Linked DNA regions of Homo sapiens. The protein of the gene in region 2 interacts with the protein of the main gene of each other region in a pairwise test. Each region holds a gene or a part of one and is shown on either strand. Other genes may lie near its edges. The genes, in order: TMEM128, CLDN5, SLC35B4 and VAMP5.

Region 1 (7,030 bases), on a different chromosome or scaffold from region 2:
TCCTAGGGTCCTTACTGCACATTGGAGAGTGATGTGGAGACCCTTGGATAAGAAATGGAAGGGAGAGGTATGTTGGTGAGCATCATGGCATTGGGAGGGCTGGTGTGCTTAGGGTCAAGAGTAATAATTTGGAAGTACCAGTGGGGGTAGGAAGATGCAGACAGGACTGTGGTCCCCTCGTATCATGGCAGGACACATGATTTCTCCTCAAGGGCCTTCAGGAGGAGCAGTGACTTCTGGCGGAGGAGACTGTCGAGCCACAAGGAAAAAGCCCACAGGGGAAAGTAGGCAGAGGGGAGTTTATTTAAACTGTCCTCTACTTTCTAGGGGAGAAACTTTCCCTAAACACTCCCATCTTCTGCCCCTCCATGTCACTCACTCCTTTGTGGGAGGTGGCGTGACTGATTGAGTGTGTGATGAAGAACTGGACAAAGGTAGCTCAGCACCTTCTTCTGCTGCAAGTCGGCTGCCCATAGGAAGCGCAGAGTCTGGTCTGCCTTCCCATGGTGTCATTCCACAGGGGCAGTCCCCACAGGAAAAGGTCTCTAGGTTTTCATTTTGACCTGGAACCCAGTGGGTAAGGCTGTTTCTGGGTGTCAGAGACCCAGTATTAGGAAGTGCTTTGTCATCACTCACCAAAGCCATATTCTTCCCACGGCTGCATCAGTATAACAGACATTTAATCTTCATCAGCTTGACTCAGTCATCTCTCTTAGAACTTGGGCTGGGAAAAGAGGGATGGATACTTTATTTTTATTTTTATTTTGAGACAGGGTCTCGCTGCACTCTGTCACCCAGGCTGGAGTGTAGTGGTGCGATCATGGCTTGCTGCCTTGACTTCCCAGGCTCAAGTGATCCTCCCACCTCAGCCTCCCAAGTAGCTAGGACTATAGGCGCACACCACCATGCCTGGCTAATTTGGTTTATTTTTTGTAGAGACGAGGTCTCTTCATGTTGCCCAGGCTGGTCTCAAACTTGTGGGCTCCAGTGATCCTCCCACCTTGACTTCCTAAAGTACTGCGATTACAGGTGTGAGCCACTGCACCTGGCTGGAGGGGATGGGTACTTTAACCACCACCAATAGCAGCTGCTCTTTCCTTCATCAGATACTTTATGGAGGCTGAGATGTGTTTGGCTGTCAGTGCCAAACACGTGGAAGGTGCATTTCTAGCTCTCCAACAGCTCATTCTAGGCTGCAGCAGACAAGTTACCAGGCCGCATGGTATGTGCTTTGTAAGTGTAGGCGCAGGGTATCATGGGAGCATCTAGGAGGGATATCTAGTCCAGGTCAGCCTCAGGACTGAGACCTTTTTGAGGTTTTAGGAGATGTGAGAGAACTTCTGTATTTGTGTCCTTATATTGGGTATTTTTAGTAGTTTAGAGAAATGGCAGAGTAAGAAATGATCACACATAAGATATTTGGGGGCAACTGCAGTGAAGTGGAGTGCCCAGGACCACATAACTGCTGTGTGGCAAAGCCGGGACGCAGACACTGGGACCAGGGCTGTGGGGGTTGGAAAGAAAGTAGAAGTCATAGATCTGTCCTCAACAAGGTGTCATCTTAGAGAGAAAAAGGCAGAAATGCATTCTCAAAGGCTGAGGATTTTGAGTCGCATTGTTTTCTTGGGAAGGACTCATTAAGGGGAGTTGGGGGGTATTGAACAGCCATGAAATGAGAGGGCTGCACAAAAGACAGTGCCGGCTGAGTTCTGCTTTTGGAAAATGGCTAAAATGGCTCGTTCTTCTGACGCCTGAGGTGATTTCTTTTTCCTCTGGCTCTAGCCTAAGTTTAGAAGCTTGAGGCCTTAAGGTTCTTTATATTGTTCAAAGATGGGAGAGCAGGTCCATATTAAAAACAAAACAGGCCAGGCGCGGTGGCTCACGCCTGTAATCCCAGCGCTTTGGGAGGCCGAGGCGGGCGGATCACGAGGTCAGGAGATCGAGACCATCCTGGCTAACGCGGTGAAACCCCGTCTCTACTAAAAATACAAAAAACAATTAGCTGGGCATGGTGGCGGGCGCCTGTAGTCCCAGCTACTTGGGAGGCTGAGGCAGAAGAATGGCGTGAACCCAGCAGGTGGAGATTGCAGTGAGCCGAGATCGCGCCACTGCACTCCAGCCTGGGCGACAGAGCGAGACTCCGTCTTAAAAAAATTAAATAAGTAAATAAATAATAACAAAACAACACTGTGATGCTTTAGAAATCACAGTTTAAAATACTCGGCTTGTGTGCATCAAAATCAACAGTGGAGTTAAAGACAGAAAGTAAAATTAAAATCCTAGATGCTCAGGCCCAGAATTTTGGAAACTGGGGACTAGGTAGTTTCTCTTAGAAAGGTGCAAGGTGACTGTGATATAAAGCCAGGGCCGAGGACCACTGACTGATAGTATTATATTTTGTTCAGGCAGTTTAAAAAATTTTCTTAGGCCGGGCATGGTGGCTCATGCCTGTAATCCGAGCACTTTGGGAGGCCAAGGTGGATGGATCACCTGAGGTCAGGAGTTCAAGACCATCCTGGCCAACATGGTGAGACCCCATCTCTACTAAAAATACAAAAATTAGCTGGGTGTGGTGTTGGGCACCTGTAATATCAGCTGCTCAGGAGGCTGAGGCAGGAGGATAGCTTGAACCTGGGAAGTGGAGGTTGCAGTGAGCCGAGATCGTGCCATTGCACTCCAGCCTGGGCAACAACAGCGAGACTCCGTCTCAAAAAAAAAAAATTTTTTTTTTCTCATATCCACATGTTGGCAAAGGAAAAAAATGTCTAAAAAGACTCCTTAGGGGTAATGATAAAAGGCCTTTTTAGACATTTTTTTCCTAATCATTCCTGTGGAATGTGGAATTAGATAAACTATATCATTTATATACTGCATGCATATCTATGCTTTATACATACAATTAGAGCCATATTTTTTTCTTCACTTTGGGGGCGATACTCCCCCCAGTGAGATTGCATGCTCTAGCAGAAGAGAGGTCTTTGAAGACTCCTAAAGATGAACATGGACATTTTTTCCTCATAGATATAACTTGAGTGATGGCTGGGCATGGTGGCTGACCCCTATAATCCCAGCACTTTGGAAGGCTGAGACAGGTGGATCACTTGAGGTCAGGAATTCGAGACCAGCCTGGCCAATATGGACATGGTGAAACCCCATCTCTACTAAAAATACAAAAATTAGCTGGGCGTGGTGGCCAGTGCCTGTAATTCCAGCTACTTGGGAGGCTGAGGCAGGAGAATTGGTGAACCTGGGAGGCGGAGGTTGCAGTGAGCTGAGATTGCAGCACTGCACTCCAGCCTGGGCAACAGAGCAAGACTCCGGCTCAGAAATAAATGAATGAAAATAAAAATAACTTGAGTGGAATAATAATGATTATGATTGAGAGTCAGCTGTGAGGAGCACTTTGCTGACCACTTGATTTAATTCTCACAGCTATTCTGAGTTAAGTACTGTCAATATTTCTGAAACACACGGAGGTTAGGTAATTTGCCTAGAGTCACAAAACTAGTCTTGCTCAAGTTAAGATTCAAACCCATACAGACAGATTTCAGAGGCTGTGCTCTTAACCCCTTCCCTCTACAGCCTCTCATGACTCCGAATCTCAGAATTGCATCATCGTAAAAAGCCTTCATGGAATCCGGAACCTTGCCATTATTGGAAGTTCACTTTGTGCCTTTGTAACTTATCTGTTGTAGCCATCTGTTCTCCCTCTCTCTTCCACATGGATTGTCAGGCTTTTCCCATAGAGAAGCAGATGATGATGGGATATTGGATTGAGTTGGGAGAATGGGAAAGGCATTTCAGTCCCCAAGTCCAGCTGGGGTGGAGGGAAGGGGTTGTCCAGGTTGCCTCACTCTTGCTGAATCAGGTCACAGGTGGAATTGGAAGGGAGTAAAAAGGCATTGGCATTGAGGGTGAGGTGGTGAGTAGAAGATATTTTGAAAATGGGAGGATTTCATTTAGAAATCTTTTATGAGAGAAAATTTGAATTATTGATCTTCCTAATTGTCTTTCAGTATTCCAAGAAAGTCCACTTAACTTGGAGGAATGAAGTTTCCCACTGATAAACTTCTTTAATCCTGTCACACTCAAAACTTCAGAAACAACCAGAAAGCCACTATCTTCCTTGTATTTTTGTTTTTATTTATTTTATTTTTTGAGACAGAGTTTCACTCTTGTTGCCCAGGCACTCCAGGCTGGAGTGCAATGGCGCCATCTCAGCTCATTGCAATCTCTGCCTCCTGGGTTCAGGCGATTCTCCTGCCTCATCCTCCCAAGAAGATTGGATTACAGGCTTGCGCCACCACGCCTGGCTAATTTTGTATTTTTAGTAGAGACAGGATTTCTCCGTGTTGGTCAGGCTGGTCTCGAACTCCTGACCTCAGGTGATCCACCTGCCTCGGCCTTCCAAAGTGTTGGGATTATAGGCATGAGCCACTGCGCCCGGCCTCTTCCTTGTATTTTTAAAGAAAATGCATTGTCATGACCAGAATTTTCCCTTGGTTGGTTGGCTGATGAGAGTGTATATATAAATGCATGTATTTCAAGTCTTACTTTTCATTCTTTCCTGAGTTGTGTATCTCTTTTTCTCACCCCCATCTCCCATAGATTGAGACTTTCTGAAAGCATGGATTGTTTAAGTATGGCTCCCTCTGCAACACTTGATATTCTTAGAAGCAGATTTTTAAGCTATTAGTAAAAACTTTTAAGATATGTGACGATTCATTAAGTGCTGTCAGACCTCTTACTGTTTTTATCTCCACAGCTGGTTTCTCTGTGGCAGTGCCTTGTTGCTTGTCAGTTTATCAATTGCATTTTACTGCATAGTCTACCTGGAATGGTATTGTGGAATTGGAGAATATGATGTCAAGTATCCAGCCTTGATACCCATTACCACTGCCTCCTTTATTGCAGCAGGAATTTGGTAAGTTAACTTTGAAATGACTAACAGGAATGAACAACAAATTTTTTTTTTGATCAGATAGTGATATGCTTGGTCCAAACTTCGAAAGAAAAAAAGTTAAAACAGAAAAATAGTCTCCTGGTCATTCATGCTCTCTGGTTCCCTTTTGATTAGTATCTCTTTCTCCTTCTATTTATGGATCTAGTTATTTAAAGCACAGATGGTGACATTCTGTACATATTCTGCATTTTGCTTTTTAAATCTATTTTATTATGACATACAGTACATATAGAAAAGTGAAAAAAACTGAGATGAATGAATTAGTGAATGAATTCTCATGAAGTGAGCATTGGTGTAAACTGAGCCAGCACACTGGGAACCCCCTTCATTCTCCCTCCCAGTTACTACACCTTCCCTCCTGCCACAGGTAAATACTGCCCTGACCTTCATGGTAACTACTTGCTTTGCTTCCATTAGATATTCTATTTTTGTTTCAGCTACGCTTTTGAACTTTATAGAAATGGATTTGTACAGGGTGTATTCCTTCACATTGAGCTGGCTGTGTGCAGCATTGTGTGCAGTTCTTTCATATTGTCGCCGGGAACAGTGACTCATCTTCATTGCTCTTTAGCATTCCATTGTTTAATTGAATCCCAGTTTTCTTTTCCCTTGTTGATTGTGTTTAGATTTTTTTCAGTTTGGGGTTACTATGAAGGATGCTATAAAGAGCATTCTTGTACATGGCTCTTGTAGCACAGTGAACACATTTCTGTTGGGTGTAGAGATGTATGTATATATGTATATATATGTACCCCAAGGGGTAAAATTGTTGGATGTACGTACCTTTGACTTCAGTAAATCATGCCAAACTGCTTTCCAAAGTGGTTGTTTGTCCTTTTCTCCTTTTGTTTTTCAGTGGATCCTTATAGTTTGGGATTCTTCCATAATGGTACATATAGATGTGTCTCATTTTTTTAAACAGTTGCATAGTTTTCACAGCATGGACATAACATGATTTATTTAACCTGTCTTCTGTTGTTGGACTTCGTTATATTTATACCCAAACAATGCCACAATGAATAACCTTCTTCATAAGTTAATTAAATACTCAATGAAAAATACAGGGTTTTTTGGGTTTATAAAAGTAATACTTGCTCACTGAGGAAAAAAAATCTGTAAATTACATGAAAACACAAAGGAAATATATCCTATGATTCAACCAGAAAGAAAACTACTTTTCCTATGTTGTGTGCAGCTCTCTAGTTTTTTCTTTCTTTATATCAATTGGATTTTTTTTTCTTTTTGGAGATAGGGTCTCACTGTGTCACCCAGGCCGGAGTGCAGTGGCATGATCACAGCTCACTGCAGCCTCGACTTCCCAGGCTTAAGTGATCCTCCTGCCTCACTCAGCCTCCCGAGTAGTTGGGACCACAGGCATGTGTCACCACATCTGGCTATTTTTTGTATTTTTTGTAGAGATGGGGTTTCGCTGTGCTGCTCAGGCAGGTCTCAAACTCCTGGCCTCAAGCCATCTGCTTGTGTTGGCCTCCCAAAGTGCTGGATTACAGGCGTGCGCCACCACCCCCGGCCTAATTGAATTTTTATTTTGGAAGAACCATATACCTTTATACATATTCTTTCTATGACTTATTTTCTGTAGTTGAAGTTCAAGGTTGTTTGACAGTGTGATGTGGTTATTGTTAACCTGTATGTGGGGGCATGCAGATACGTTGTTTTACTTTTTCCCATGAGGGTAAGATCATGTCCAGAAATGTTAATTTTTTAGACAGTGTGATTTGTGATTATAGTTATTTAATACTCATACTTATCAAACTATTATATATTAAAACCAATAACCATCTGAACTTATTTGAATATAGTTTTCCCTATTCTGTTCTTAGAAATTTCAGTCATTAAAAATCTTTATACTTAGTGTTTTAATTTTACTTTGATGACAGGAATAGTGTTTTTCTCAATGAAAGATATAATAGCAGCTTATAAGTGATAACTGTTTTCATTCTGTTTTTAAGAGACAATATTTTGGTCTTTTTTACCATGATAGTTTAGTGTGTGATGTCATAAAAATGGGCTGTAGCCATTTAAATTATTGTTGAAGTCAGAAACTAA
Region 2 (6,049 bases):
AGTATTTTTAGTAGAGACGGGGTTTCACCGTGTTGGACAGGCTGGTCTCAAACTCCTGACCTCAAGTGATCCGCCCACCTCGGCCTCCTGAATGGAATTACAGGCGTGAGCCACTGCGCTTGGCCTGGCTTGCCATTCTATAGAACCCTTGACCCTTCGTGGATCACACCAGAGCTCCCTGCCCCCCACTCCCTCACCCGCTGGGGAAGTTAAAGCCACAGTGACCTCCAATTCTGACTAACAGCCAGCGATGACTACCCTGAGGGGTGCGGCTGAGGTTGGATGAGCTGTGAAGGCCCTGGGAGCCTGGGTGGATGGCACTCAGGAAAGGCAGAAGAGAACCGGGACTGGCATCGGCCTCCCCTGCAGCCTCGCAGCCTCCACCATTGGGGGGCTTCGTTACCAGTGAGGAACTAAGGCAGAGAGGCCACCTCACTAGTCCAGAAAGTTTCTTGCTTGCGGGAGCGAATCTGACTCCATGCCTGTGTTTAACCACAAAGAGTAACAACAATGCCCGCAAAACCGCCGAGTCTGGCACTGTCCACTCTGGATGCTGCTCACATCGTCACAGCCGCCCAGGGGCCCCACACAGGGTGCCTCGGGCACCTGGTGCAGTGGTCAGGGATGCAGGAGGACCCCAGCTGCTGCTCTCGGCCTGCAGGAGTACTGGCTTGTGTCAAGAAAGAGCACCAGGCCACACTGTGCTTGGAGGCTCTGCAAACATTTGCGGAAATAGAAGGACACATCCTTAACTGTTTCAAAACTGAAAGATAGAAGAAACGCTGTTCTTCACTTCCCCTGAAATCAAATCTGTTAACTAGGAGTTTCCCAAACCCAAATCCCCAGGAATCTTGAGCCTAAATTTAGCTTATCCTTGGAAGGTCACGGGATTACCCTGGGGCAGGGTCAGCCAGCAGCTGCTCAAGATAAACTTGGCTTTTCTGCAGACTCAGGCTCTTCTCACACACAATTAATGAGATCCTGCCATTCTTCCCCTGGGAAAGCAGAACAATGGCTGGGGGTGAGCAGGTGGCCTTGGCCAGTGCTCTGCCCCAAGGGCCCTTTACCAGAGATCAGGGGTTTGTGTCCCTGCCTAACCAGGACACCTCCGATCTCCACCTGCAGGCCCTGGACCACTGTGGCACTGTGGACACAAGGCCGCTTCTGCCCCTTGGACGCCGAGCCCCTTCCCACCTCTGGGATCTTGCACTGGCTATTGCTTCTGCTCTGCCTGGAACTTCTTCCCCGGATCCCTGTGAAATGTCACCTCTTCAGAGAGGCCTTCACCACTGTCTTTCCTGCCCAGTTCTTGGTTGATAGGTTCCTGTCAGCTCCTTCTGGGCAGGAGCTTCTTGTGCTGTGTGCTCTGCCTAGAGACAGTGCTTGCCACGAAGTAGGTGAGCAGACCCTCCATGAGTGGCAGGAAAGGTGGGTGCACCCTCATGCCCCTCCGGAGTCTGGCCTGGGCTACTCAGAGGCCAGCCTCCATCTGAGGTGGGTTTGTCTGGGGTGGCGTCAGCCCCTGCGGCCCTCTCTGGGCCTCTCTGCATTGGCATTGTTCCACTGCAGCCTGGGGCCTCGACCAACATAGTGGGGTCAGGGTAGAAACCAGATTGTGAAAGGTGAAGCCTGAGACTCCTCTGCCACGTCCCTGAGATGCTGTGAGGCTGCCGCCAAAGAAACATGAGCTTGCTGGGGCCACCCTAGGGTGACAGCTAGGAGAGAAGAAAAACAGGCAGCCAGGTGAGAAGGGAGAGCCTTGGGCTGGCTGCAGCTCCAAGCTGGCTAGAGGGCAACAGGCAGCCTCCTGTGCAGGACAGACGCATGAAGACAGCCACCCTGTGGAGGTTATTCCTGGATACTAGGTGGGAAAGTCGGCAAGCAAAAGGACAGGTCCAGCTCAAGCTTCTAAAAGCAATGCTGGGGGACGGTGCAGCAAGGTGTTCCTGGAAATGACCTCGGCAACACATCTTAGAAGATGAGCAGGACCCAACCTGACAGATACACGCTGCGGGCAGAAGAGGCCAAGGTAAGAGACGGCCCATGTGAGGCCCATAGGCAGGTAAGTCTCCTGGGGCAGAGTGTGTGCTCAGGGCCGCACCAAGACTGGTGGCTGGACTGGCCAGTCCTAGCGCATGCAGGTACACATCAATCCAGCTGCTCTGGGAGTCGGCTCTTCGTCCATGGGCAATGTGAGCCATGGAGGGTCTTAGGTAGGGTGAGGCCCAGGAGAGGGGCCTGGTGGGGTGGGTGGCCTAGCTGGGCAAGGGCAGGTCCCTGATGACCTGAGGAGGCCGCAGCAGTCATCCCAGGAAGATGGTGGCATGGAAGGGCTGGGAGTAGGGGGATCTGGGGAAGTTCCCTGGGCTTGGGTTAGGGGGTAGTAAGAGTGAGAGGGTGGGTGGGTCAGCTGTACCCCTGGAGTACACAGAGGAGGAGATGTCCAGGAGGGTCTGTAGAGGAAGGGGCATGGCCCATGGGTCTGCAGCAGGAGGAAGGCAGTGACTAAAGTGATAGCTGGGAGAAGGCAGTGGTCCTCAGAGCCATACCTGGTGGGGAGAGGCCACGTGGGGCTGAGCAAAGAGGGTATGATTTCCTTCCAGCCTCAGGGCTGGGCACACTTGCCTTCAGAACCTCCCCACACTAGGTGAGCCAGACGCTGGCCTTATCTCATTTACCATCTCAGAGCCATCTGAAGGGGGAGAAGGGAACCGGGCCCCAGGAGGGAGAAAGTCATCAAACCTCCCACATCTGTGACCAGCCTCAGTGCCATACTTTTTCTATGGAGGGCCCTGTCCAATGGAACTGAGCACAGACCAGATAAAAGAACTGGGCACCCAGTGGCCTCAGTCCAGGGCCTGGAGTTCAAACTTTACTGGAAACAAAGGGGCCGAGAGAGACTGGGGAAAGAACTACTAGAAAGGGGCTGGTGCCCCCATGGGGCTGTGGGTTTTGGAGCCGCGTGCCCCCACCTGAGCCTCAGGGGGCCCGGAGTGTCCACACCAGTGGACCTTTCGAGAAATGGCTGGGCCATTGTGCAGAAGAATGCCCGGAAATCCCGCGCCTCCCTCCTCCAGCAAGGATGGGGGCTCTTCCTCCTGGCCAGGAAACTCCAAGTTGGCTTCCGGAGGGTGGCCTGGGGGCTGGGGTGCCAGGGACACCATCGCCACTGGTGGGAGGGCAGGGCACAGCCCCTCCGTGTCCCTTTGTCTCTCCTGTCTGAAGGCCAGAGCAGGCTGCTAGGCCTGGGGCCACCACTGCCCCTGGGTGCTACACCCAGTGTGCTGGGTCACTGGGAACTTCCTGAAGTGGTGTCACCTGAACTGGGCCCCCAAGGATGGGGTGCGGGCAGTACCGCAGGAAGAGGAGCAGCCCCTGTGAAGATTGAGAGGTCTGGGAAGCCCCTGCGGCTTGGGAGAGTGGGGGTCGCCAGGCAGGGGGAAAGCCCCTGTGCCACCGCTTTTTGCCAGAGACTCAGGCTCCAGAGAGGCAGTGAGTGGCATGGGGGGTGAGGCTGGGGCCCTGGGCCTGACCTCCACACGCCTGCCTGGCCTCTCTGTTTGCCATGGGATGAGAGAGACAGTGCTGGGACTCAGAGCGGGGCTGGAGAGTGAGAGTGCGAGAAAGGGCCTGGGTGGGGCTTGGACCCCGGGGCGGGCTTTCTGGAGAGCCCCCCTACGAGGGCCTCTACGGCGGTGACGGGGTGGGGGGCTTCTGCAAACCTTGGTCAGGGAAGTGGAGCTGGCTCGAGTGGAAGAGACCACCCGGCTCAGTCGGGGATGTGGGAGTGGACTGGGTGGTGCAGACTGGGGGTCGAGCGCCTTCTGAAGTGACGGGGCCGGGACGCGCAGGGAGGCGGCCCAAGAAGCGCGCCCTAGGCCAGCCCAGAATGCGCTCGGCCGCGACTAGGACAACGGCGGGTGGGGCTGGGGGCGGCTGCCGGGCGGGGAGCGGTCCCGCGCCCTCAGCTACCCCTCAAGAGCCGTTGTTTCCCTAACTTCAGCTGCCAGAGGCTCTGTGATTGGCTGCGGCACGATGACCCGCGCACGGATTGGCTGCTTCGGGCCGGGGGGCCGGGCCCGGGGGACAGAATCCGCCCCCGAACCTTCAAAGAGGGTACCCCCCGGCAGGAGCTGGCAGACCCAGGAGGTGCGACAGACCCGCGGGGCAAACGGACTGGGGCCAAGAGCCGGGAGCGCGGGCGCAAAGGCACCAGGGCCCGCCCAGGGCGCCGCGCAGCACGGCCTTGGGGGTTCTGCGGGCCTTCGGGTGCGCGTCTCGCCTCTAGCCATGGGGTCCGCAGCGTTGGAGATCCTGGGCCTGGTGCTGTGCCTGGTGGGCTGGGGGGGTCTGATCCTGGCGTGCGGGCTGCCCATGTGGCAGGTGACCGCCTTCCTGGACCACAACATCGTGACGGCGCAGACCACCTGGAAGGGGCTGTGGATGTCGTGCGTGGTGCAGAGCACCGGGCACATGCAGTGCAAAGTGTACGACTCGGTGCTGGCTCTGAGCACCGAGGTGCAGGCGGCGCGGGCGCTCACCGTGAGCGCCGTGCTGCTGGCGTTCGTTGCGCTCTTCGTGACCCTGGCGGGCGCGCAGTGCACCACCTGCGTGGCCCCGGGCCCGGCCAAGGCGCGTGTGGCCCTCACGGGAGGCGTGCTCTACCTGTTTTGCGGGCTGCTGGCGCTCGTGCCACTCTGCTGGTTCGCCAACATTGTCGTCCGCGAGTTTTACGACCCGTCTGTGCCCGTGTCGCAGAAGTACGAGCTGGGCGCAGCGCTGTACATCGGCTGGGCGGCCACCGCGCTGCTCATGGTAGGCGGCTGCCTCTTGTGCTGCGGCGCCTGGGTCTGCACCGGCCGTCCCGACCTCAGCTTCCCCGTGAAGTACTCAGCGCCGCGGCGGCCCACGGCCACCGGCGACTACGACAAGAAGAACTACGTCTGAGGGCGCTGGGCACGGCCGGGCCCCTCCTGCCAGCCACGCCTGCGAGGCGTTGGATAAGCCTGGGGAGCCCCGCATGGACCGCGGCTTCCGCCGGGTAGCGCGGCGCGCAGGCTCCTCGGAACGTCCGGCTCTGCGCCCCGACGCGGCTCCTGGATCCGCTCCTGCCTGCGCCCGCAGCTGACCTTCTCCTGCCACTAGCCCGGCCCTGCCCTTAACAGACGGAATGAAGTTTCCTTTTCTGTGCGCGGCGCTGTTTCCATAGGCAGAGCGGGTGTCAGACTGAGGATTTCGCTTCCCCTCCAAGACGCTGGGGGTCTTGGCTGCTGCCTTACTTCCCAGAGGCTCCTGCTGACTTCGGAGGGGCGGATGCAGAGCCCAGGGCCCCCACCGGAAGATGTGTACAGCTGGTCTTTACTCCATCGGCAGGGCCCGAGCCCAGGGACCAGTGACTTGGCCTGGACCTCCCGGTCTCACTCCAGCATCTCCCCAGGCAAGGCTTGTGGGCACCGGAGCTTGAGAGAGGGCGGGAGTGGGAAGGCTAAGAATCTGCTTAGTAAATGGTTTGAACTCTCTCCCACCTGTGTCCTGTTCTCTGTCCAGCCATCTTCCGTGTCCAGCAGCCCCATTCATCACCCACCAGCCCCGCCCTCCCAAGGACTCCTGTGGAGACCTCCTCCCAGGGCTGGAGGCTGGGGCTCTTTTCCCCATCCTCCCTGCCACCTTCCCACCAGGTGGGAGACACAGCCACCACTTACTACAGCCCAGAAAGGCGGGATCTGCGGTCAGAAGAGCTGCTGCGTCATGGGGCCCTGGGGCCCGGGATGGGACAGGGGCGGGGGCAGCGGCAGACCCCAGCAGAAGATGCGGGGTGAAGCGCCCTCAACACAGGCTGGTGAGTGGGGGTCCTGCGGTGTGGGAAGTGCTGGGGGTGAGCAGCCAGGCCGCTGGCTTCTCCCAGAAAGGGCCAAGCCCCACACAGCACAGGGTGAGGTTTTCCACTGCCCTCTCAGGGCTTGCCTAGTCCCAAGCCCCATCAAGTGGCCACAGAGGTCTGTAGAATCCCCGACCAGGCCCTTTCCAATGGTGGGTGGGGCAGGAACAG
Region 3 (7,030 bases), on a different chromosome or scaffold from region 2:
CACGATCAATCAAAGCAAATTAAATTGTGTCTGCATATTTAGCAAATCCTTTTGTGCAGAAAGACTATATGTTTAAATTTCTCCATTCCCTGTTGTTGAGGAAAGGATGCTGGCTCCATTGTTTGCTTTGTCTGTGATGGCCCTCAGACCCTATAAGGGCAAGAACCATAATTTGGGGGTTAATATCCTGCCATACAAGGTGAAGTGGTCAAGAAGCACTGTATACATTTAACTTAAGTCTAACTTGCTTTTCTTTGTATTGCTGTCAAACAACCTGTACGACTTTTAATCATTGTAAAGCTACTCTAATTATTCTATAATGTTTTTGCACTTACATTTATCTGACCTGTTTCTTTCCATAGCACGCCCTTCCACTTCCGGGTTTCGTCTTCTTGGCTTCTGATATTTATGACCATGCAGTTCTATTCAATAAGTCTGGTGAGTTTGGGGTTAGACAGTAGAATTACCTGACAGTTTCTGAGGCAGAGTCTCAGTTTTACTCTTGACTTGACCTCGGCCTTTTTCATAATCCTATTCAAATCATGTGTTCCTTTCGAAAATGTCTCCATTCCACTTTCCAGTCATTGCAGCAGCAAAAGCTTTTACAGGGGTTTCTCAATTATTTACAAATGAAGTAAAAGAATATCTTCGAGTTTTCCATTTTGCTTTGGAATTTGTGTGTTTGCATTTGAATGTGAAATGTTTGATGTTTTGAGAATGCAAATGAATACTTACAGCACACTGCAGAGACTGGAGCCCTGCGAAGTTGGGCAGCCGTCCAGCTCTCTCAACTGCTGTTTATCCTTCTCTGCCATGAAAGGCAGAGCTGCTCACAGATCCAGCCCAAGCTGCCATGGAGCAGAGCAAGAGGGGAGCTCAATGATGACAAGGTTTTTCTCCTAGTTACAGATGAGACAGGCAGCAGATGAATAAGCAAAATTAGTTTCAAGCGTCTAGTGTAAGTTAGCTGTTACTTTTTAAACTGGCCAGTTAATAAATTAGCTATAGATTGTCAGTTAACTTGAAAGGGATCACTTGTATGATCTGATTATCTACTAACAGAGTATAATATAGACACATTGAACACACAAGGAACAAATAAACGTTTTTAAAATCAAGGCTTTATGTTGCACACACCTCAAATGCTTAAGTGCATTTTGTAGAATGACAGTAGGTGCTCAGTAAACATTTGTTTGCTATCTGAGCATGAGTTGTGAAGTTATGACTATTCTCTGCATTTATAGTGTTGCCTCTCCCATTTGCCCCATCCCCCAAAAAATGTGAAGGTAGTGTGTAAGAGTTTGTAAGGCTCTGAATTACTCAAATAATCATTTCTTCATATTAACACAACAGTTTTTAAGATCTCTGAGAAGTCCCACGTAGCAAAGGGCTATTGAAATAAAAATGTTGTCAAATTCCATGTGATTGATTTAGTTGTTAGAATGCTGCTTCTAAAAATCACAGGGCTAGGTATTTATGATAAAATGTTTTACAGAATCTGCCTTCAACTTCTCCAGAATCATTTCCAAGTTAAAGATACATTTTCCTTCTCTTGCTTTCCTTGAGATTAAGTTTCTGAGATCCGTGAATTTTCCAAGAGAGCTAAATATCTGTCAAAATATTTTAAGTGATATTCATTGTCTCTTTCCTTCAGAGATTCAGTGTATCTCTGAAGTTATTAAAAAGTAATCACGTTTGTTAACTTCCTTTTCATTTCAATACTTGCTAAGGATATCAAAGATAATAGAATACCAGATTATTGGCATTGCCCACTGATCCAGAACTAAGTTTCAAAAATTAGTCTTTATGTGTATGCGTGTGTATGTATATATGAGACATTTTATTCGTGAAAGAAAATTAATATTTCTTACCAGATCTCAGCATCATTGTATCAGAATTTCTTAAATTATGCTGTATAATTCAAAACCTGAAAAAAATTTAGTAATACAAAAAAACTGAGCCATTGAGGATTTCTATGTCTGTATTCTCTTTCATCTTATTTCCTCCCACAAATTTACTGTGCAAGTGTCATTATATAAAGCTAACATAAGAGTGAGAGTGTGTGTGTGTATGTGTCTTTTAATAGAGACAGGACCTCCCTGTTGCCCAGAATGGTAGATTGGTCTCGAGCTCCTGGGCCCAAGGGATCCTCCTGCCTTGGCCTCCCAAAGTGCTAGGATTACAGGCGTGAGCCACTACTCCTGGCCTAAAACTAATGTAAGAATATATTTAAAGTTATTCACAGTTCCATCAACCTGGACATCTGCCAATTTTATTTTTATTGATTTTCTTCTAGACCATGTCTGTTTACAGAGATTCTTACATAGCTGTAATCCTTGTGTGGATATAATTTTATATTTGTTTTTTACTTTTTTTCTGAGTTTTTTTTATGTGGCTATAAAATCTCTATGATTTTTGTTTTTATCAAATGTACAATGCCTCCTCTAATGAAAGTGCCTTTGTTTATGTAGCCATTGCACCATCATTGGGCATTTGATTTTGATTCAGAGTTATTCTTTATTATGTATAGTACTTTAATGAGTGCAGAACCTTTTTCTTCCTTTGAATTAAACTAGGATTAATTCTGAAGGATGGGTAGGAATACTTTTATAGACCCTTAATAAGGATTATGAAATTGATTTTTTTAAAGAATGACGCCAAGTTATACTGCCACCAACCTGTGGCTGCCAGTTCCATTACCAACTTGCCAGATTAAGATATTATTTATACATTTTGAATTGGCTAGGCGCAGTGGCTCAAGCCTGTAGTCCCAGCATTTTGGGAGGCCAAGGCAGGCGAATCACTTGAAGTCAGGAGTTCAAGACCAGCCTGGCCAACATGGCGAAACCCCGTCTCTACTAAAAATACAAAAATGAGCCAGGTGTGGTGGTGTGTGCCTGTAGTCCCAGCTACTTGGGAGGCTGAGGCACAAGAACCACTTGAACCTGGGAGGCAGAGGTTGCAGTAAGCTGAGATCATGCCACTGCACTCCAGCCTGGATGACAGAGTGAGACTCTGTCTCAAAAATAAATTAATAAGTTTTGAATTGCTAATTTTGTAGCTATAAAATGGTACAGTCTTATTTACTTTGGAATTCTGTAATTACTAGTGTGATTGAACATACTTCCAAACAGTAGTTGCTAGCCGCCTTTCCTCTTGTGTTGAGTTGTTAAGGCTGTCTATATCATTTTATCATTTTCAACTTTTCTGTGCTTCACAGTCTTTCTTTGTAAAGTGAGGTACTATTCAGGCAAATGGTAAAACACTTCCTTAAAAATTAAAACTATTATTTGTTTTAAGAAACCAATTTAATGACTTTAGTGGCTGCTATAGCCTGGAGTCAAGGCAAGTAAAGTGATGCGTGATCCAATTCTATTTGCAAGGAAGACAATGTTGCTGTTCCTATTATGTTCAGTCTGTATTACCCTGTTCAAAAGATGAAAAATTCAGCTGTGAAAAAGCAATATGGCTATATCCTCTTGTAACCTCTACAGAGTTATATGAAATTCCCGTCATCGGAGTGACCCTGCCCATCATGTGGTTCTACCTCCTCATGAACATCATCACTCAGTATCCTTTGGACTGTGCCGTCACCCTTATGTCATCATCAGGTTCTTTTGGCACAGGAATGGTCATTCTTTTCTTCTAACAGTGTGTTGACTTGAATATGATTTTCGCTGGATTTATTCTGCGGTAAGCTGGAGACAGAGACCAATTCAGGGAACTCCTTGTAGAGGGCAGAAGAGATGCTAGTGGTGTAGTAGGTCAGTAAGGCACAGGGCAGCAGGAGGAAGTGCTCTGAGTGGAAGTGTAGGAGTCCATTGATTGATAGTGGCGGGTGTGGTGGCTCACGCCTGTAATCCCAGCACTTTAGGAGGCCGAGGCGGGCAGATCACTTGAGGTCAGGAGTTTGAGACCAGCCTGGCCAACATGGTGAAACCCCCTCTCTACAAAAATACAAAAGTAAGCCAGGCATGATGATGGGTGCCTATAATCCCAGCTACTCCATAGGCTGAGGCAGGAGAATCGCTTGAACCCAAGAGGTGGAGGTTGCAGTGAGCTGAGATCATGCCATTGCACTCCAGCCTGGACAACAGAGTGAGACTCCATCTCAAAAAACAAACAAAGAACTACTGTATAGCATAAATCATCTGTGATTTGTACCTGTGATTTTTTGGTGTCCTAAGATATTTCCAGTGATCACAAGCTGCTGCAAAGTCCTGAAAGAAATTTCAAATTACCAGCTACTTAGGAGGCTGAGGTGGGAGGATCGCTCAAGCCCAGGAGATCGAGGCTGCAGTGAGCTTGATCACTCCACTGCACTCTAGCTTGAGTAACAGAACAAGACCCTGTCTCAAAAAAAAAAAGAAATTTCAAAGTAATCAAGTTTTCGTTTTTTAAAATGGTTATTTCGAATGACCTTACTTTCATTATAAAAATAATTATGTCTTTGAAATAGTGAAACGAATCGAGATTGACCTCATTCCTCTGAAGTCAGCTCCTAGATTTGCCAGAGTCCCTTTCTGGAGGAGGGGATAGAAGGGCTGGAGGCAAGATAAATAAAGGTGAATGGGATCACCCTTACCGAGAGCGTCACCCTCTGTCATTATCTTGGAGGTGCCTGTCATTGTAACCATAGGAAGACTCCAACATAAGAATAATTGGGGGTTTTTTGGCGGTTTCAAATTGGTACCCATAAATGGAATGGCAGGACAGGAGTTGTTCTGCAGGTTCTCCCCAGGAGGAGCCTCAGAGCTGCCGTAGCGGACCTTCATGTTTTCTTAGAATATGAGAAGTTAAACCAGGGACCATGCCAGAAGGTTCTCTCACTGATCCCCCAAGTACAGTCTACAGAAAACTACCTTGACTCCACTCCTCCAGGTACGTGTGCATCCGGGGTGTGTTTATCCTCACCACAGAATGCGCCTCCCTCACCGTCACGCTCGTCGTGACCCTACGCAAATTTGTGAGCCTCATCTTTTCCATCTTGTACTTCCAGAACCCCTTCACCCTGTGGCACTGGCTGGGCACCTTGTTTGTCTTCATTGGGACCTTAATGTACACAGAGGTGTGGAACAACCTAGGGACCACAAAAAGTGAGCCTCAGAAGGACAGCAAGAAGAACTGAGGCCTGTCTGGAGTACGTAGACCAGTGTCGTCGTGAGGGTGGGACCCTGTGAAGGTCTGACCACCGTTTCGCTTTTGTTAATGCCGAGCTACCCGCAGTGCTGAGCCAGCCGTGCAAAAGGAAATCTTCAGGAGGGGACTTCTCACGTTGCTCAGACTGACACATGTAGACTAAATAGAAACCCCTCAGCCCTAAAATAGAAAAAAGAACAGTTCTGGACTATTGAACAGCCCATTCATTTATTTCTGTTTTGTTTACCGACATATTCAGTATTATTCTTGTTTTCTGAATTCTGAGTCTCCTGAACAAAAGGCTTACTATCCATGGTCTTGGAAAAGATTGTCCCTTCTCTTGCTGTTGTAATGCATCTCTGCTACAGCAGTCATTGTCATCCTGTGACCTTATCCCTTTTGTCTCCCATCACCTTTTCCTTCTTCAGCAGCACCTCACAGTCAGTCAGACGCTGCAGGCACCACTATCACCAGGAGTGGCCAAGTAAACCGAGACACCAGTAACAGCAGGGCTGGACTTCCTCCAGCGTTTTGGGAAGGAAAGAGATGTTCCCCTGAGCTGATTCCCAGTGACAGTGCAGCAAGACTAGTGGGACTCCTCTTTCCCACATTTTGCTTTTTTTTTTTTCTATGCAAAAGTCAGATGCTTCTATCCATTGCTTTCTGTGATTAGGGCGGCCCTGCAGCATATCTCACAGCAGACACAGTGTTCATAACAAAGAAAGGTTGTGCCGGGCACGGTGGCTCACACCTGTAATCCCAGCCCTTTGGGAGGCTGAGGTGGGTGTATCACTTGAGGTCAGGAGTTCAAGACCAATCTGGCCAACATGGTGAAACCCCATCTCTACTAAAAATACGAAAATTAGCTGGGTGTGATGGCGCATGCCTGTAATCCCAGCTACTTGGGAGGCTGAGGCAGGAGAATCACTTGAACCCGGGAGATGAAGGTTGCAGTGAGCTGAGGTCGTGCTACTGCACTCCCGCCTGGGTGACAGAGTGAGACTCTATCTCAAAAAAAAAAAAAAAAAAGAAAGGTTGTTATGGACTGGACACCCCTGAAGCCCATTGCCTAGGCCACAGTGGTGACGGCAGGATGGCCCTGCTCAGCACCGCAAGAGCCATGGCTGTCCCTGTTGGCCCAGCCGGGCACTCACAGGGCAGAAGGGTGGGTCTCAAGTGGGAGGATAAGGCTTCACCACCAGGAGATTCCCCTCTGCCCGATGACTCTGTTAAGAGTCACGACCCATCAAGGGAATGCATAGATGGAGATATATAGTGTGTGATGTGTAAATCAGGTCAAACCTCAACGACAATTGAAAGTTGTTATTGTCCTATGAGGTATCTTAGCATTCTCGATGGGTATTGAGGATGGTTGGATGTGCTTTATTGTGTGTGGAAACATGCCTCTCTTTGCTAATCATTTCAGAGGTCCAGTTTTCCTTTCACTGGACAATCTTGAATAGGAGGAACGCTGTTGCTGTAATATGCGTAGCTTCTGTGTGCTCTTGTGTAGTCTGTGTGTGATCAAAGGGCACGGAAGTGGCTGCACTTTCACATCCCTTTTCTTTACTTAGCTGGAACCTTACATACCAGTACATGCTCCTCTGTAAGCAGCTGAACTCACCGGCCACTTCTCTGTTTGCCTATAGACAAAGACTGTGTGTGTGTGTGTGTATGTATGTGTGTGTGTGTGGTGCACACATTGTGTTCTTAAACTGAGACGTGGCTCTGCAGGTCTCCTGGGCTCATTCCATGGTGTGGTATGTTTATTCCACTGTCCAGAGCTATTCTCTGATGGATTTGAGCAACAGCAGTGGAGATAAATGTCCTAGAGTCACCAGGTCGCTTGGAGAAGTCATTTAAGCTGCCTCGGGTTTTTGTTACTTAAAAT
Region 4 (6,506 bases), on a different chromosome or scaffold from region 2:
TTTGTATTTTTAGTAGAGACAGGGCTTCACCATATTGGCCAGACTGGTCTCAGACTCCTGACCTTGTGATCCACCTGCCTCGGCCTCCCAAAGTGCTGGGATTACAGGCGTGAGCCACCACACCTGGCCATATTGTACAATTCTTGAGATCTGACTGCTAAAAAAAAAAAAAGGAGCTAGGGAAATGTGGGCCACATCAATATAATAGCTCTTATTTATTGAGCATTTAGTATGTGTCAGGCGTTGTGCTAAGCTTTTGATTTACAATAAGTCACATAATCCTTAGCTAACATTATTATCAGCACTTTACAGAAGAGGAAGTGGAGGTCAGAAAGGTCATATCCTCAGTCTCAGTCACTCAGCTGGTGAGTGGCAGAAGCAGGATTTCAACAGACGGGTGCAAAGCAGAGCCCTGCTCCTAGTCTCTGAGCTGAGTGCCGACTTAGGGAGGCAATGTTATACCGGTACTTGCGCCCATTCATCTGACGACAGTTAGAACAGTTTCTTGGATACTAGACAGGAGATGGGGAGACAAGGAGAGTTAGGATAGGGAGGTTTTTTTGTTTTTGTTTCTTTGTTTTTTCTTGAGACAGGGTCTCACTCCTTTGCCCAGGCTGGAGTGCAGTGCGCAATCTTGGCTCACTGCAGCCTCTGCCTCCTAGGTTCAAGCAATTCTCCTGCCTCAGCCTCCCGAGTAGCTGGGACTATGGGCAGGCACCACTTTGCCTGGCTAATTTATGTATTTCTTGGTAGAGGCATGATCTGCCCACCTTGGCCTCCCAAAGTCCAGGGATTACAGGCATGAGCCACCGTGCCTGGCCCAGATGGTGTGGTTTTGAGAACTGCGTTTTCATAGGAGGAATCAAAGAGATTGAGCCCAGAAAAACCTGAGAGGTTTGAGTGTCATAGAGGGGATATTCTGTACAGGGGGCAACAGTCTGTCAAGAACATTTCCTGTGTAACTGCCACTCTCTGGCAATTACACAACTGCTCCCCTCTCGCCCTGGCTCAAAATTCCAAGCCCTGCAGGCTTCTGGCCTCAGGTCTCAGAAATGCCTGTCTCACCCTTCTTCCTTTCTCCACGCTCTGCTTGTCACCCCTCTCCCGCCTGGTGGCCATCTCCTGGCAGTCTTGCTGATGGTACTTCTCCACCCCTCTGGCTGGCCTCTCTGCCATTTTCTTACTTCTATCTGTGCCTGTCTACCACCAATAGAGAAATTATCCTGAAGCACTTCTTCACTGTCACCCGTGGCTCAAAAACCACACTAGCTCTTAAGTTTTATCAGTCGCTTGGAGCCAGTCTTCTCTACCTGACCTTTTCTGCCTTCTGTCCTGCCCCATCCCTCCCATCCTCTGCCTGGTCCTCACTGTCAGGGTGTATCCCTATCTCTCAGTGCAAGAATGTCCCTGCTCCATGTCATCCTTCAAGGGGTCACCCGCCCCCACCATGGCACCCTCTCTGTGGCAGCTCTGATACTTACTATCTGTATCGCACAGTGTAACTCTTTACTCTTCTCTAATTGTATTACATGTGTCTTTTCCCCAGGGCAAAGTGGTCTCTTTAAGAATAGGCACAATTAGGCCAGGCATGATGGCTCATGCCTATAATCCCAGCACTTTGGGAAGCTGAGGTGGGAGGACTGCTTGAGCCCAGGAGTTCAAGACCATCCTGGGCAACATAGCAAGACCCCATCTTTAAAAATATAGGCACCATTTATTCAGGAACTGTTTATCACATCTCTGCTGTCTGCAGACATTATGCTGAGTGACAGTGTGGCGTAAGGCAGTATGGCCCTTGTCCTCTTGCTTACCTCCTTCCAGGGTCCCTGGAGCTTTATTTCTCACAGTGCCAGCAGAGACCTGTGTATATAGTCAGTGTCCTTTTTCCTCTGGTTGAGTGGGGGCCAAGGAGGGCCCGAGACTTGAGTCTAAGGCCTCTGTGTTCCCTGGAGCGAATGTGTTCTTTTAGGCCTGGGTCCATCTTGGCTCCAGGCAGGCCTGGCTTCGCATTGGGGGAGACTGGTCCAGATTACAGCTGGAAGCACAGCCAGCTCTTTGGAGAATGTGACCCAAATATCACCCCTTGTTGAAAAATAAGGTAACAACAGCTGTAGCATTTAGAATAGAAAATAAAAAGATAATATCCAGCATTTTCCCAGTCTCTAGCAGTGACTCTTATTTTCGAGTATTTATCCATTCTCAAGTTTTTGCTTTGGACTATTTAATTTTGTTTTTTGTTTTGTTTTGTTTGCTGAGATGGAGTCTTGCTCTGTTGCCCAGGCTGGAGTGCAGTGGTGTGATCTCGGCTCACTGCAACCTCCGCCACCCAGGTTCAAGCGATTCTCCCATCTCAGCCTCCCAAGTAGCTGGGATTACAGGCATGCACCACCATGCCTGGCTAATTTTTGTATTTTTAGTAGAGACAGGGTTTCACCATGTTGGCCAGGCTGGTCTCGAACTCCTGGCCTCAAGTGATCTGCCTGCCTGGGGCTCCCAAAGTGCTGGGATTACAGGTGTGAGCCACTGCGCCCAGCCTGCCTTGGAGTATTTGAATGTGGGGAAGTTCAAAGGATTGAATGATGGAGCCTTGTTGAATGCTATAGTAGTAATAATAGTGATGACGGTTGACTCAGGAAAAGGTGAGAGTGCAGTTTCCCTGCTCTCTTCGTTGTTCCTCTGTGTTTCCTGCTTACTGCTTCCTCCAGCCTGTGAGCGCAGCCTCCCCTACAGTGGTTTGCCTGACCTCTCTTGAAGCAGGTTGCTTTTCTAGCTCATGGGTAAATATTGACCTATTTGGGTTTCAAATGCCTGCCCCTCGAAACTCATGCAGGGCTAGAAAAACATGCTGGGAGAACATCTCTTGAGAATAAGAATTGCTTTTGGTTAGGCTGTATCGTAATTGGCCCACTCACTGATTCCTTGCTTGCAATGGTCAGCACTGTGCTGGCCTCCCGGTGGGATGGTGGTGGACAAAGGCAGGGCACTGCTCCCTGCCCTCCCTCTGGGAGTTTGTGGTCCAGCTGGGGAGATAGGACTCATACAGTGGGAATTCTTGGAGGCTGTATACCAAGCAGCTGCAAGGATCCTGAAGGAGGATTCTTGGCTGAGTGGGAGGTAGCCCTCTGTGACCACCAGATCTCTTCTAACACTTAAGTTTTCTGGTTTTAAGTGGAATTCAGTCAAGTGCCAAAATGTCTGTTGTAGACAATGGGTGACGTGGGCTGGCAGGAAAAGAAGCTTGCCCTTCTTGTAAGGAGGGGAAGGGAACAGGGATGGGCTGTGGGGAAGTAGGCTAAGAGGAAGGAGTTTCTGTGGTTTGCTAATCCACTGGTATTCATCTCCCTGAAATGTCCCTGCTCCTAGGCTTCTGGCTTATACCAGGGCCTCCTGCCTGGTGTCTCTCTCTGTTACGTGCACCCAAAGCCCAGTGCCTTTCTTGCACATGACCCAGACTTTCTCTCTCCCCTGTCATTTCAACCTTCCCCAGCTTGGATCCAAGACCTCCCTTCCCAGTCCTCTGAAATGAGCTGGTGTTTTCTGTTAGGCAAAGCTGCCCCCCAGGCTGGGAAATCCAAGAGTTAGTCTCATCTCTGTAAGTTGGACCCCAGTGAGGACCCCAGCTGAGTGGAAGGCTGGAGGCCAAAAACCGGTACCACTGAGGTTCCCAGACGGAGAGGGAAGTTGGAGCAGTGATATAGGGAGCAGGATCAGGCCAGGAGGCAGAACTGGCCTGACCAGTCAGAGGCCCAAAGAGGAAGATCTGAGCTTCTCAGTTTGGGGATAGAGGGGTTAGGCAGAGACTATGATGTGTGCTGCTTCAAAATTACCTTTCTAGCCTGTAGGGTAGGTCTCCTCCCTGTGTGTTCCAGCCAGGTAGCTTGGTTACCCATTCTTTGCTGCCTTCTTAGGCCAGTGGGAAACCTTAGGGCAGCTGTGCATTGATTGGGTAGACGCCATTCTGGAGCAGGTGAGAAAAGAATCAGCTTTGTGGGAGGGTGGGGTCCTGGGAAGATCCCACCTTGGGACAGCTTAGAGGAAGCTGAGGTGCTGGAAGCCGGGACTTACCTAGGTCCTAGGCCCTGCCTTGACGTGCAAGGGGAGGAGCCTGTGAGACTTAAGGTGTGCCGCACTCACCCCGAAGGCCAGACCTTCACTCCGCACACATCATACCCTTACACGAAGGATGCTGTTACTCTCATGCTGTACCCACCTACAGGGGGAGAAGGAGGCTTCTAGATCTCAGGGGCAGATGAGGGCCAGGTGGGGGCCTCATGCAGCCCTGACCTCGGGCTTGGTGTCCAGGCAGGAATAGAGTTGGAGCGGTGCCAGCAGCAGGCGAACGAGGTGACGGAAATTATGCGTAACAACTTCGGCAAGGTCCTGGAGCGTGGTGTGAAGCTGGCCGAACTGCAGCAGCGTTCAGACCAACTCCTGGATATGGTGTGAGGCCTGGGGGAGCATGGAGGGGAGGGGAGAGGATTGGGAAAGTCTCTCTTGGGCTGTATTCAGGATCTCCAGTTCCTTGGTGGGGTTGAGGCCTTCTTGAGGGCCAGTGTGGGGCCTCTGGGTTTCCTCAGGCACCCATAGCCTAGACATGCAACAGATAGACCCCACAAGATAAGAAGGCCTTGGTTTGAAGCTGTGGACCTTCTTAAAGGTAGAAAACTGGTATCGTTTTTTGTTTCTTTTTTACTTTGAGACAGAGTCTCACTCTGTCGCCCAGGCTAGTACAGTGGCACAATCATATTTGCTGCAGCCTCTACCTCCCAGGCTTAAGTGATCCTCCTGCCTCAGCCTCCTGAAGAGCTAGGACTACAAGCCTGCACCACCATGCCTGTCTAATTTTTGATTTTTTGTAGAGATGAGGTCTCACCATGTTGCCCAGGCTGGTCTTGAACTCCTGGATCCAAGAGATCCTCCCACCTTGGCTTTCCAATGTGCTGGGATTACAGGCATGAGCCACTGTGTCCAGCCTGAGTACTGGCATTGTTAACTGAGGGTGAGACACTAGGGCTGAAAGTCAAGGGCCACACCGGTGTTTGAGATGAGTCAGGCTGGGAGGGTTCCACGGCAGGTGGTATAGAAAGAGAGCAGACAAGGCCGGGCGCGGTGTCTCACGCCTGTAATCCCAACACTTTGGGAGGCCGAGGTGGGCAGATCACAAGGTCAGGAGTTCAAGACTATCCTAGCCAGTATGGTGAAACCCCATCTCAACTAAAAATACAAAAATTAGCCGGGCGCAGTGGTGTGCACCTGTAGTCCCAGCTACTAGGGAGGCTGAGACAGGAGAATTGCTTGAACCCGGGAGGCAGAGGTTGCAGTGAGCTGAGATTGTGCCACTGTACTCCAGCCTGGGTGACAGGGAGAGACTCCTTCTCAAAAAAAAAAAAAAAAGAAAGAAAGTAGACAAGATGGGGAGGATGCAGGAGGAGACTAAGCCTTACTGAGATGGGGTTGGGAGGAGCTGGCTCCCAGGCCAAGAGGGTGCCAGCTAACTCCCACTTTGTGTCTGGGGGTATCCGCAGAGCTCAACCTTCAACAAGACTACACAGAACCTGGCCCAGAAGAAGTGCTGGGAGAACATCCGTTACCGGATCTGCGTGGGGCTGGTGGTGGTTGGTGTCCTGCTCATCATCCTGATTGTGCTGCTGGTCGTCTTTCTCCCTCAGAGCAGTGACAGCAGTAGTGCCCCACGGACCCAGGATGCAGGCATTGCCTCAGGGCCTGGGAACTGACCCAGCTGGTCCTGAAGGAGAAGCCAAATGGCTGCACTGGCCGATTCTGGTCTCCAGAGGACCTTGGTGTTTGCTCTCCCTTGACCCACCCCAGTGAGTGCCAAAGGGCAGCCCCAACATGTGCACCCCTGCATTTCCTGTCATGCCACAGACTGGCCCTTGAGGGCAGCCTGCTGTACTGGCCATGCTGGGCCAGCCCCACCTGGAGCTCAGTAAAAACTGCTGTTTGATTAAAAGCTGGTATCTGTGTGTGAAGGTCCCCAGGTTGGTTAATCCCATCTGTCTCTACCCCTAGGGCTGCTTAAAAAGCCCATCACCCAAAGGACTCCACCCCTGGGAGATGGCTCCTTCCTCTCCCTTCCCTACTTGATCCAGCCCGACACAGACAGGGAGTGTGGATGCAAGAACACAATGGCCCCCAAAGCAGACCCTTGAACCAGTCCTCCCCATCTGAGCCTGTTTCTCTGAGAATGAAATCTATTATTTTTCTGTCATCTTGGGGATGCTTAGAGGACCAATGAGACTGTAGATGCGATGACAAAGAAGAAAGCACTTCACCAATTTTTTTTTTTTTTTTTTGAGACAGAGTTTTTGCTCTGTTGCTCAGGCTGGAGTGCAATGGCACTATCTCAGCTCACTGCAAACTCCACCTCCTGGGTTCAAGCAATTCTCCTGCCTCAGCCTCCCAAGTAGCTGGGATTACAGGTGCCCACCATCACACCTGGCTAATTTTTGTATTTTTAGTAGAGACAAGGTTTCACCATGTTGGCC

Evidence for each region.
Region 1: the proteins of CLDN5 (region 2) and TMEM128 interact in binary tests that used the Homo sapiens proteins (3 or more experiments, as listed by UniProt).
Region 3: the proteins of CLDN5 (region 2) and SLC35B4 interact in binary tests that used the Homo sapiens proteins (3 or more experiments, as listed by UniProt).
Region 4: the proteins of CLDN5 (region 2) and VAMP5 interact in binary tests that used the Homo sapiens proteins (3 or more experiments, as listed by UniProt).

What each region holds. Positions count from the first base shown.
Region 1 is NC_000004.12:4,238,215-4,245,244, reverse strand, and holds part of TMEM128 (transmembrane protein 128), read left to right. Parts: intron 1-4,765; coding exon 4,766-4,924; intron 4,925-7,030.
Region 2 is NC_000022.11:19,522,497-19,528,545, reverse strand, and holds CLDN5 (claudin-5), read left to right. Parts: upstream 1-4,290; coding exon 4,291-4,947; 3' UTR 4,948-5,519; downstream 5,520-6,049. UniProt on the Homo sapiens protein: Plays a major role in tight junction-specific obliteration of the intercellular space.
Region 3 is NC_000007.14:134,292,931-134,299,960, reverse strand, and holds part of SLC35B4 (nucleotide sugar transporter SLC35B4), read left to right. Parts: intron 1-362; coding exon 363-438; intron 439-3,494; coding exon 3,495-3,570; coding exon of another isoform or gene 3,571-3,649; exon of another isoform or gene 3,650-4,881; coding exon 4,882-5,128; 3' UTR 5,129-7,030. UniProt on the Homo sapiens protein: Antiporter that transports nucleotide sugars across the endoplasmic reticulum (ER) membrane in exchange for another nucleotide sugar.
Region 4 is NC_000002.12:85,587,423-85,593,928, forward strand, and holds the end of VAMP5 (vesicle-associated membrane protein 5), read left to right. Parts: intron 1-4,302; coding exon 4,303-4,440; intron 4,441-5,525; coding exon 5,526-5,735; 3' UTR 5,736-5,984; downstream 5,985-6,506. UniProt on the Homo sapiens protein: May participate in trafficking events that are associated with myogenesis, such as myoblast fusion and/or GLUT4 trafficking.